Linked DNA regions of Homo sapiens. The protein of the gene in region 3 purifies or fractionates together with the protein of the main gene of each other region. This does not show direct contact. Each region holds a gene or a part of one and is shown on either strand. Other genes may lie near its edges.

Region 1 (3,500 bases), 820 kb from region 3:
ATCTATTTAGAAAATAAATTAAGCCGGGCACAGTGGTTCATGCCTGTAATTCCGACAAATCAAGAGGCTGAGGTGACAGGACAGCTTGAGCACAGGAGTTTAAGGCCAGCCTGGGCAACATTGTGAGACCCCATCTCTAAAAAAAAAAAAAAAAATTAAAAACAAGAAAAGAAATTAAAAATGATCCTAACCCTTCCCTTTCCCTTCCATCTTTCTTAGCATACCAGCAGGTTTTAAAATCTAAGAGAGGAAATGGAAGGACAGGCTTCAGAAGGTGGAGAGGCTGAGTTATCTCATTTGTATGACCTATATTACCAGTATTGCCGTCTATCACTTGCCTGGAGTTTTATAACTTTTGTATATATAAATGAACTTCCTGGTGGATCTTCTTAGCGTTATATCAACAACTTTCATTTGAGAAACACTGGAATAACTGGAGGAATAATATTAGCCCTGCTAAGATTCAGAAATAGCCTTATTTTTGATCATATGACAAAAAACTCCATAATGATGTAGTAAGACAAAATGACAGCAACTGTAAGAGGAATACTGTTTTTCAATTACTAGTTTAGCTTAGGATATTTCATTATTTAGAAGCTTCTAAGTTAGGTTATCGAAGTTACAACTAAAATAACAATAAAAATACCTAACCACATGAAACCCAAATCCATCAGATAATGTTTATTTTGAATACTTCACTCCATGGTTGCAAAGATCAAATGAGATAATATATACAAAAATGCTGTGAAGTGCAATTCTATGATGTTAATGATGAAGGACAGCTAAATAATAATTATGTACCATATATAATATTTATATAATTCATATAACACAAACACATACACAGCAGGGTATATACTGCCAAGGCAGGACATTGTCCAAAGTATAACTGCTATCCTTTTTATCAACATTACTAGAGATGCTAACAACAATTCTAAAAAACATCTTTTTAAAAGAAAAAACTCAGCTGGGCGCAGTGGCTCAAGCCTGTAATCCCAACACTTTGGGAGGTCGAGGTGGGTGGATCACCTGAGGTCAGGAGTTTGAGACCAGCCTGGCCAACATGGTGAAACCCTGTCTCTACTAAAATACAAAAATTAGCTGGGTGTATTGGTGCACCACCAGCTACTTGGGAAGCTGAGGCATGAATGAGAATCGCTTGAACCCAGGAGGCAGAGGTTGCAGTGAGCTGAGATCACGCCACTGCACTCCAGCCTAGGCAACAGAGCAAGACCGTTTCAAAAAAAAGAAAAAAGAAAAAAGAAAAAAAAAAGAAAAAAAAGAAAAAAGAAAAAAAAAAAGAAAAAAAGAAAAAGAAAAAACTCAAGCTTTTCTAGTCTAAAGAGTATGGTGATAATCAATCACTCTACAACCATCAAGAGTAGAGGGCACAAATCCTCCATAGTTGCTATTGATTCTACAGAAAACATTAACAATAAATAAGCCCTGATAATTATGAGATTTTAGACTTTAAAAAATTGTGTTTACACATATAAGCTCATTACAATAATCTAGTTATAGGCACTACTGTCTCTAAAGGCAAGAAAATTGAGGTTCACAAAGGTTAAGTGATTTTACCAAGATTACTCAATTAGTAAGTGGAAGAGCTAGGACTGGAGCTCAAGAGCTTTAACTCCAAATTGTCTTCTTTTCTCTATCTAAATTTCTGAGACAGGTTCCAAAACATTTATATTAGTTCTCTGACCTCTCCATGCACATATATTCTTCTCTATAATCATTGTTTTATCACCTGGCAAACAGGAAAAAGTAAAGACAGTGGTTCCATCTTTCCTAAAAGGTTTGGATGCAGGCAGAAGCCTGAACTGGGACCTGTCTACAGGAAACTGTTGCTAACGTCGGGTGACAATGTTCCATGGGGTAGAATCTATAGCCTAAGGTTCTTGAACACTCAGCTCTAAAAATGACTTTTTTTTCCTCACCAAAGCGGGCAGAAATATATAGTTAAAGAATGAGAGATAAAATGTGGAATGCTAGGAAAACATTTTTTTAATATTCTTGAAGAGGAATCTATTATATAACAGTGTTTGAAAAATCACTGTAGTCTTCCACTTCCATTGAAAATATTTTCTTCTTGCTCATCGTTCTATCTTAAAGTCCTCATGTGGTTGAAAGTCTAAAAGATCCTATTACATGCACACTTCTGGTGTGTTACTGTTACATAACTCTGAAAGCTCAATGTGGTTATCTATATATGGTAGGTGGTTAGCAACCAATGTATAATTCTGTAAGCCATAATAAACATAGTAACTTAAGACAAAGTAGAAATGCAAACAGATAAAATACTAAAAATTAGCTATCAATTTAGCAACTAAAAAGATCTATTTCTGCATTTCTATTAGATGTTCAATATAATTATGTTTCCTTCTCTATTGCAGTGTCTTATTAGAGGAAAAAATTATGCAAAGATTTTCTGATAAGTATGTACTAACTTCACTTATCTGGAAGTCATTTATCTGATATTAATTACTCAGAATGTACAGTTAAGAACTAAGAAATGACACAAGATGCCTCTGAGCTTTTCACATTATATACACTAAAACTCATGCATTTTTACATCCAAGAGTATCTCTTGGGTCTTCAAATTTAATTTTAATGTTTGATCCTGGTTATAAACATAATTCTAATAAGCTGAATAATTAATGTTTGGTTTCCTAACTATAATAGGTCAGGAAGAGCAAATTATAAGAGGAAATGGTTTTCTAATAGCAGGCACATAATCACAGCAATAAGAAATGACAACCAACAGTAAGACAAGGGCAAAAAGTTATTTCGGTTCTAGACTGCTTAAGAACTCACTTACATGTGGGCTAAAAACGTCACTGCTGAGAAAAAATGAATTATGACCACTCCTACTTTACTGATGGAAAAGCAGAGCCACGCATGTCATTTGGTCCAATTACAGTTAATCATCCCATGAGCAAGAGATATAAGATGTGGATTTTTACATTACCTAAATAAAAGTAAGAGAATACCTGATGACCTCAAGACCTATTGTGGTTAGATGAGTAAAGTAGGGAGGTTAAAGGTCACTTAAGGCAGAGAATATGCATGGACTTTAAAAAAATATGGTCGAGATTTAACGTGGACGCATTTCCATAGAAATTATAGAAAGTGAGTTCAAAGTACGATGGTTTTATCACATCAATTTATAGTATTCCTTAAATTCTGTGACATTTAATCCATCCAAAACCTAAACATGAGGCTGGGTGTGGTGGCTCATGCCTGTAATCCCAACACTTTGGGAGGCTGAAGCAGGCGGATCACTTGAGGTCAGCAGTTCAAGACCAACCTGGCCAACATGGCGAAACCCCGTCTCTACTAAAAGTACAAATATTAGCTGGGCATGGTGGCGCATGCATGCAAGTCCCAGCTACTTAGGAGGCTAAGGCACAAGAATGACCTGAATGTGGGAGGCGGAGGCTGCAGTGAGCTGAGATTGTGCCACTGCACTCCAACCTGGGCGACAGAGGGAGACTTCA
Region 2 (3,500 bases), on a different chromosome or scaffold from region 3:
CTTGAATTCTGGGTGTGAGATCTCTTCCCCACCATATTCCTGTGTGTCACTGGCTCCCATTCGTTTCCCCCTTCAGTGATGCTCCTGCGGGCTGTCCCAGGTGGGGCTGGAGATGCCTCAGTGCTGCCCAGCCTTCCACGGGAAGGACAGGAGAAGGTGCTGGACCGCCTGGACTTTGTGCTGACCAGCCTTGTGGCGCTGCGGCGGGAGGTGGAGGAGCTGAGAAGCAGCCTGCGAGGGCTTGCGGGGGAGATTGTTGGGGAGGTCCGGTGAGTAATGCGGCTTCTTCTCCTGCTTTATCCCTCCCCTGCAGCTTTTCAGCTGGGGTGTGTTCTGGCCTTCGCTGTCTGTCTCTAAAGAATAAACCAGTTCTATAGCTTCTAGCCTAATCTGGGTTGAAGCTGTACATTTGGTACCTCGCCTTGCACATGCTCCTTGCTGCTTCTGGACTCTCATGGTTGATCTGTTGTAGCAGCTGAAGCGCTCTGTTTGCCTAACCTAGTCTGTCTGTGCGGGCTGGGCCCAGGAAGCTGCCCTGCTTGCCCTCCTGAGGGTTAGAGACTTAGGATTTTCTCTGCTTTTAGCCCTTTAATGAGGAGCAGTAGTAAGAGGCACCCCATGGTGAGCAGAAAGACAAGCTGGATGGGACCTAATGGTACCCTTCGGGATGGGGCCTGCTTTCCAGATGCCACATGGAAGAGAACCAGAGAGTGGCTCGGCGGCGAAGGTTTCCGTTTGTCCGGGAGAGGAGTGACTCCACTGGCTCCAGCTCTGTCTACTTCACGGCCTCCTCGGGAGCCACGTTCACAGATGCTGAGAGTGAAGGGGGGTGAGTTGTCTCTCTTGGAGGCAGTTATGGCTACAGCCAGGTTGTGTTTTGTAAAAGTATTATCAATGGAAAATTCAAACCAAGCTGCTGCAAATGATTTTTGGAACAGGTAAGAGTATAATAAATACAGAAGAGTTGAAACAAAAAACCCATCCAATTTATGTCATTCAGACAAATGTAGATGTTAATAGCAGTTATTGCTTGCATCTGTTATCTTAGTTTATTACATAGTTATGATATATTATTTGGGCATTTTTCTGTGTTATCACAAGGACTTGATAAGCATTGTTTGACTTTGTTCCTTTCCTTGGGTGGCTGAGCTGGTATACGGAGATGTCTAAGCACGAAGCATGCTCCTCCCTGGGAGTCACCCTCTTCCCACAGGGGAGCCTTGCCTGTGATCCTTTGCATTTTTACAGGTGGGAGGTGGATGTCCTGAGTTCTCAGTGGCCCAGGAGGGCTGACGATAGGCCTTTCTGTGAGGCGGGGCAGCTGGCAGGAGTCTGGTGGACAGCCTCCTCCAAGTCTGGTCATGCTAAGGGTGTTTTGAGTTTAAACCACTAGCACCACTTTGAAACTCTGGTCCCAAGGATAGAGTGTGATGTCAGTAGCAGCATCTGACCCATCTGACCTTATCTGCTGCTAGCTCCAGTTATTCAGGTAGCCTGTGTGAGGCCTAGAGGCCGATTTCTCCTTGTCCAGCCTTTATTCTTCTTAAGGGAAAGACTGGTGTAGAGAACAGCCAAGTTTTATGCTGGATCAGAGGAATTAGCTATAAGCAGGTACATGGAAACTAGAAGTTAAAATCAGTCCAGGTGTGGTGGTGGCTCATGGGTAATCCCAGCACTTTGGGAGGCCGAGACAGGAGGATTGCTTGAGTTCAGGAGCTTGAGACCATCCTGGACAAGGCAGCAAGACCACGTCTCTACATAAAATAACTACCTGGGGGAGGCCAAGGTGGGCGGATCACCTGAGTTCAGGAGTTTGAGACCAGTCTGGCCAACATGTCGAAACCCTGTCTCTACTAAAAATACAAAAATTAGCCAGGTGTGGTGGTGCATGCCTGTAATCCCAGCTAATCGGGAGGCTGAGGCAGGAGAATTGCTGGAACCCAGGAGGCAGAGGTTTCAGTGAGCCGAGATTGCGCCACTGCACTCCAGCCTGTGAGACAGAGTGAGACTCCATCTCAAAGAAAAAAAAAAAAAAAAAAAAAAACGAGCTGGGCATGGTGGCATGGGTCGGTAGTCCCAGCTACTTGGGAGGCCGGGAGTTTGAGGATGCAGTGAGCCATAATTGTGCCACTGCACTCCAGCCTGGGTGACAGAGTGAGACCCTGCCTCAGAAAAATAAAATACAATGTAAATACTAGGTGATAGGAATTTTTCAGCTCCATTATAATCGTATGCACCCACTGATATGCGCAGTCCGTGGTTGACTGAAATGTCATTATCACCAACGCTGGATTTGATGAGTGCTCCGGGGTCTCCAGAAACCTGTGGAGTGGTGGTGAAGAGCTCTCTGCTCTTCCATGGGGGACTGCTGTTGCCTGGGTTGTCAGATCCCTGTTATCTGCATTCTCAAGGGCAAACAGAGGTGGCCCTTTTCTATTCAATTTACCTAAATGGCTCTGGGCCAAGAGATGCTTCCAGAAGTTGTGTTAAAGAGGGGGCAAAAATGAAATTAATATTTGATACATCTGAATTGAAGAGAGAGACCGAGGAAGTAGTTGATAGTGGGCACTGAGATGTAAAGAACATCTCTGCAACCCAAGGAAGCAGGCCACTTGGGTGGGGAATTGATGTTTGAACTCTGTAAGGAGGTTGAACAGAAGGAGAGGTCACAGCTCTGCCCAAAATCAAAGAAAGCTTGAGGCCCTTCACAACTGTTTTTGTTTTTGTTTTGTTTTGTTTTGAGACAGGGTCTCACTCTGTTGCCCAGGCTGGAGTTCCATGGTGCCATCACAGCACAGCAGCCTCAACCTCTTGGGCTCAAGTGGTGCTCCTGCCTCAGCCTTCTGAATAGCTGGGACTACAGGCATGTGCCACCATGCCCAGCCAATTCTATTTATTTTTTTTGTACAGATGGGGTCTCACTGTGTTGCCCAGCCTGTTCTTGAACTCTTGGCCTCAAGCAGTTCTCCCACATCAGCCTCCAAGTGCTGAGATTACAGGTATGAACCACCGCACCTGGTCCTCTTTGTGATGATTTAAAGAAGTTGTACTAGGCCAGGCGCGGTGGCTCAGGCCTGTAATCCCAGCACGTTGGGAGGCCAAGGCAGGTAGATCACCTGAGATCAGGAGTTCAAGACCAGATGGCCAACATGGTGAAACCTCGTCTCTACTAAAAATACAAAAATTAGCCAGGCATGTTGGCAGGCACCGGTAATCCCAGCTACCTAGGAGGCGGAGGCAGAAGAATCACTTGAACCCAGGAGGTGGAGGCTGTAGTGTGCCAAGATGGCACCACTGCACTCCAGCCTCGGTGATAGAGCAGTACTCTGTCTCAAAAAAAAAAAAAATTACTGAGGCTGGGGTGTGGAGGCTCATGCCTATAATCCCAGCACTTTGGGAGGCTGAGGTGGGCAGATCACTTGAGGTCAGGAGTTCGAGACCAGCCCGGCCAACATGGTGAAACCCTGTCTCTACTAAAAATAGAAAAATTAGCTGGGCGT
Region 3 (2,213 bases):
AGACACATTAGCACCTCCCCCTACAATGAGGCACCTAGCTAGACAACTTGGCTGTCCGGGCTTAACCTGCGTGGCAGGGAAGGACGCCTGCCCAGCCTTAGCCTCTACGCAATGGTGGAGGCAGGGAGGGAGAGAACCACACAGCTCCCCTCATTTCCCAGCAGCCCCCATGGAGCCTAGTCAACAGGGTGTGGTCACAGGCTAAATGAGCAAAGATGTGAGCTAATATACTGGTAGGTGTCATGGGGGCTTTCAGAGCTGGGTAAGGAGGGAAAGAGATGGAGATACTGGTTCCCCACTCCTTAACCTGCCACCTGCCTTCCCTGTCCTTTACCCTCCCTCATTCTGCTGGACCTGAGGAAAATGCAAGGGAGGCTAGGCCTAGTGGCTCATGCCTGTCATCCCAACACTTTGGGAGACTGAGGTGGGAGAATCACTTGAGCCTAGGAGTTTGAGACCAGCCTAGGGAACATAGTGAGACCTCGTCTCTACAAAAAAATTTTAAAAATAGGGCCGGGCACACCTGTCATCCTAGCACTTTGGGAGGCGGGCAGATCAGCTGAGGTCAGGAGTTTGAGACCAGCCTGGCCAACATGGTGAAACCCTGTCTCTACTAAAAAAATTAGCTGGGCATTGTGGCATGTGCCTGTAATCCCAGCTACTTGGGAGGCTGAGGCAGGAGAATCTCTTGAATCCGGGAGGCAGAGGCTGCTGTGAGCTGAGATCACGCCACTGCACTCCAGCCTGGGCAACAAGAGTGAAACTCTGTCTCAAGAAAAAAAAAAATAGCTGGGTAGGGTGGCATGTACCTGCAGTCTCAGCTACTTAGGAGGCTGAGGTGAGAGGATCAGCTGAGCCTGGGGAGGTGGAGGCTGCAGTGAGCCAAAATCACGCCACTGTACTCCAATCTGGGTGACAGAATGAGACTGTCTCCAAAAAGAGAGAAAGCACGGGGAAGTGCAAGTGCATTGATGTGGAGCTGGGCAAGGACTTGGTTTAAGGAGCTGGTGGAGCTGGCTGAGGCTGCAGCCCAGGGAGGGGAGGAGAGTGCAGTGAGGTGGGGGAGAAGTATGCCTGGGCCGTGGAGGGCGGAGGAAGGCCAAGTCTCCACTACCTCTGTCCCAGCTTCCCTGCTGGTGGCTCTACGGTTGCATCTTCTCTCCTTATCCCCTTTCTCCCTCCTATCTCTAACCCAAATCACTTTCTGTGCTTCAGACCCGTAATTCCAGTTGCCCAGTGATATCACAACCTGAGAGAGATCACAGGCAAGCAAAAAACACTCAAACGTGTGTAAAACCAAACTTTCATCTCCACCTTTCCGTGTTCCACCTCTGTTAAGGGGGACAGCAAGCAGCTTGAGGCTAACGCTTGTTCTTTGATGACCTCCTTTCACTTCTCACATCCATCAGTTACAGGGTTTTTCAATTGTGCCTCCATAACTAATTCTTAAATCCTCCTTTCCATCCCTTCTCCATGATCCATAAGCTCAAGTCCATGCAAATGGCAGACAAAGCCCTCCTCACCTTAGCCAGCCTTTCATGCCTGTGCTCCTCTGGCGCACCCAGGCCTAGACACTTCCCTTCCTTGCCAAGTGTCTGATGATCACTACTTGGTCTTTATTTGCTCAGAAGCCTCATCCTCCCTCTGAAGCCTTCTCCTTAGAACTCAGTCACTCCTCCATTAGCGCTTGCCACACTGTCCTGGAACCGAATACACGGATGCCCCTCAGACCACACAGAAGAACCATATCTTACCATCTTTTCATGCTCCCTGCACTTAGCACAGTCTCAGTAAGTGTGTGTCAAGAGGGAACAAGAGAGAATGGGTGGCAAAACTGGACAGTGTCTTTTCTGTGCAGACCTTTGGGTTGTGAGGTTGTGACAAGGTCTCCTGGAAGAGAGAGAAGGTCCACGCCCCTCAGCCTCTATTCTTCCAGGCACTAATGCATTGGTTTCAGCGGTGAGATAACATATATGGAAGCTAAATATAAACAAATGGGTTAACAAGCTCTTGTCTCTTTCAGTAATCTCAGGGGCGATATAATCAATGAGGTGGTCCTAAAGTTGCTCAAGGCTGGATGGTCCCGGGAAGAAATTACGATGGAACACCTGGAGCCCCACCTCCAGGCGGAGATTGTGGAGACCATAGGTGAGTAACTGACTCAATATGCCTCTGGTGAGAGCCACAGCTGGTGATAATTAATGTGTTTGTTG
Region 4 (2,998 bases), on a different chromosome or scaffold from region 3:
TCCCGCACAGCCAGCCACTGTGCCGCATCAGTTCTCCCACTGGCTGTGCCCCAGGCGCACCCGGCAGGACCCCAGCAAGCCTGCTCGTTGCCCATGGAAGTGAGTGTCCAGAGCAACAGTCAAAAGGAATGTGCCAGAATGTCAGAGATGGTTATCTGGGCTGGGTGGGGTTTTGTTTTTGTTTTTTCCACTTTACACATTCAGTTGTTCTAGGACAAGCACGTAAGAAAATAAGCCTGGGCACGGCGGCTCACGCCTGTAATCCCAGCAATTTGGGAGGCGGAGGCAGGCAGATCGCTTGAGCCCAGGAGTTAGAGACCAGCCTGGGAAACATAGCAAGACCCCCATCTCCACAAAAACAAAAAAAACAAAAAAATAAAAATGATCAGGGTATGGTGAGAGGCGTCTGTACTCCCAGCTACTCGGGGGGCAGAGGCCAGAGGATCATTTGAGCCCAGGAGGTCGAGGCTGCAGTGAGCCGTGATCACACCACTGCACTCCAGCCTGGGCAACAGAGCAAGACCCTGTCTCAAAAAAGAAAAAAAGAAAAGAAAAACTGTAAGCTATGTTTTGAAAAGAATATTGGTACTTCTAGAAAGTTTCCTCCGAGATGAGAATTTTAAAAACAAACAAAAGCTGTCTTTTTTTTTTTTTTTTTTTTTTTTGAGACGGGAGTCTCACTCTGTCACCCAGGCTGGAGTGCAGTGGCGCGATCTCAGCTCACTGCAAGCTCCGCCTCCCGGGTTCACGCCATTCTTCTGCCTCAGCCTCCCGAGTAGCTGGGACTACAGACGCCCGCCACCGCGCCCGGCTAATGTTTTGTATTTTTAGTAGAGATGGGGTTTCACCGTGTTAGCCAGGATGGTCTTGATCTCCTGACCTCGTGATTCGCACACCTCAGCCTCGCAAAGTGCTGGGATTACAGGCATGAGCCACCGCACCCGGCCAAAAGCTGTCTTCTAAGGGGAGCATGGGAGCTGGAGCGTCAGTGAGGCCCCCGCCAGCCATCCTAACCACCGCTCCTGAACACCATCCACTGTGGAAATTCTGGGCAGGTCCTGCGTGATGGGGAGCCCCAGTGCACCCCGTGTTAAGAGCTGGTGCCTGCAGCAAGGGCCAGAGGACAGGCCTGCCCGGGTTACGGCTGGCACACACTTGGTGCAGGAGCACCCGGTCTGACTCGCTTCAACACTGGCCAGTTATTTGCCGCAAGCGGCTGTGACTTATGTCATTTTTACAAGATGTTTTCAAATTATTATAGGAAGCTTTGAAAAATGATGGGTTAGGGCTGTGAGGCATAAAAGTTCAATCCAGGAGCGAGAAGGATGTTTTGTGAGTGGTGAGAGCAAATATCTCAGGGACGGCCCTGCATGCCAGGCATAGACTGACGTGCCGGCCCAGCCTCCCCAGTGGTGACACCATGACCAGCCAGAGAAGTGCAGGGTCAGCATTCTCCCAGGAACGCAGCCCTGGGCCTCGCCCAGACCCCTGGATGTGGGGGACAGGGCTGGCTCCAAGGAGATCAGGGCCATGGGGCCGGCCCTCAAGCAGCAGCCCCTGCTCCCTGCTAGCACCCCGGGCCAGACGCCTGCCTGCAGGGAAAGGCCATGACGGGCAGAGCAGGTCTCCCGCACACCTCCTTTCACAGGAGGAAGTGCAGGTGGCAGACCAGCCACCTCGGCCGTGGGCCACGTGCTCGCCCTGGGTGCTGCGGGGCTCAACCACGGAATGTCAATGGTACAAGGACGAGATCCCATGTGCTGGTGACACCTCCCCATACTCCAGGGCAGGGTTCCGAAAGAGCAGGCACCATGGCCTCACTTGCTCCTCAAAGGACTAGCCCTGGGCCTGGTGCTGGGAAGAGGAGGAAAGAGGAGACAGAAGGGAGGAGGGGGAGGGGGAGGAGGGAGGGAGAAAGAGGAGGAGGGAGAAGGAAGGTGGGGGAAGAGGAGGAGGGAGGAGGAGGAAGGAGGGAAGAGGAGGAAGGAGGGAAGAGGAGGAAGGAGGGAAGAGGAGGAAGGAGGGAAGAGGAGGAAGGAGGGAAGAGGAGGAGGAGGGAGGGAAGAGGAGCAGGAGGGAGGGAAGAGGAGGATGAAGGAGGGAGGGAAGAGGAGGGAGAAGGAGGGAGGGAGAAGGAGGGAGGGAAGAGGAGGGAGGAGGGAAGAGGAGGGAGGAGAGAAGAGGAGGGAGAAGGAGGGAGGAGGGAAGAGGAGGGAGGAAGGAAGAGGAAGAGGAGGAAAAAAGAGGGGGAGGGGGGAAGGAGCCATGCCACGTCCAGCCAGAAGCCACGTGGGACACATGTGAAGCACCGTGGAGGAGACAGGCTGTTCCTACAGCCAGAGCCCACCAAGACCACGGGGACTGGGCTGCAGAAGGCACGAAGCCACCCACCTGTTGAGACCCATGCAGATCTGTCAAGGTGGCCCATGAGGCAGCAGTGCAGGCAGCGTCCCCCCTTGGCTGGTGCCCTAAGCAGCCTGCACTCAGACGCTTGCAGAGACCAGCTGCCCTCTGATGACAGGCAAGGCCACAGCAGGGCTGAGAAGGACCACGGCATTTGTAACACAAGGGAGCAGAGTGGGCATCGGGACCCTGCCTGAGGGGCTGTGGCTGAGCCTGGGTGCGTGCGCAGGTCTGGGGCCTGACACGTGTCCCCATGCAGGGCTGTCCCTGGGGCAGGTGTGCCACCGAGGGGCTGCGCTCAGGTCTGTGGCCCGCCAGACAGGCTCTTGACTTCAGCACACTCCTTTGGGTTCGTACCTGCTACTATCTTTTTAATTTCAGCTGCTCGTCCCGTTGAGAGGCATACGGAAGAAAGGCAGAATAGGAAACCGTGAAAAGTCTTTTTCAGAAAGAAGAAAATCAAAAGAATCAAACAGGTTCAGGTAACAGAGCATAGGAATTGGAACCAACAAACATGGCCAGACTAAAACCGGAGACAAAACCCCACATGCCCGAACTCCTGAAGTGGCTCAGAGCTCCGGGAGCCCAGGGGGCG

What was found. Proteins that work in one complex are often made in the same cells at the same time.
Region 1: the proteins of TOR3A (region 3) and TOR1AIP1 purify together in Homo sapiens (co-immunoprecipitation; one study listed by IntAct). This does not show direct contact.
Region 2: the proteins of TOR3A (region 3) and RMDN3 purify together in Homo sapiens (affinity purification with mass spectrometry; one large-scale study listed by BioGRID and IntAct). This does not show direct contact.
Region 4: the proteins of TOR3A (region 3) and SLC38A10 purify together in Homo sapiens (co-immunoprecipitation; one large-scale study listed by IntAct). This does not show direct contact.

Annotation. Positions count from the first base shown.
Region 1 is NC_000001.11:179,909,785-179,913,284, reverse strand, and holds part of TOR1AIP1 (torsin-1A-interacting protein 1), read right to left. Parts: intron 1-3,500. UniProt on the Homo sapiens protein: Required for nuclear membrane integrity. Induces TOR1A and TOR1B ATPase activity and is required for their location on the nuclear membrane. Binds to A- and B-type lamins. Possible role in membrane attachment and assembly of the nuclear lamina.
Region 2 is NC_000015.10:40,748,755-40,752,254, reverse strand, and holds part of RMDN3 (regulator of microtubule dynamics protein 3), read left to right. Parts: intron 1-76; coding exon 77-269; intron 270-584; exon of another isoform or gene 585-685; coding exon 686-829; intron 830-3,500.
Region 3 is NC_000001.11:179,092,070-179,094,282, forward strand, and holds part of TOR3A (torsin-3A precursor), read left to right. Parts: intron 1-2,023; coding exon 2,024-2,148; intron 2,149-2,213.
Region 4 is NC_000017.11:81,247,310-81,250,307, forward strand, and holds part of SLC38A10 (solute carrier family 38 member 10), read right to left. Parts: intron 2,785-2,998; coding exon of another isoform or gene 2,761-2,784; intron 1-2,760. UniProt on the Homo sapiens protein: Facilitates bidirectional transport of amino acids. May act as a glutamate sensor that regulates glutamate-glutamine cycle and mTOR signaling in the brain. The transport mechanism remains to be elucidated.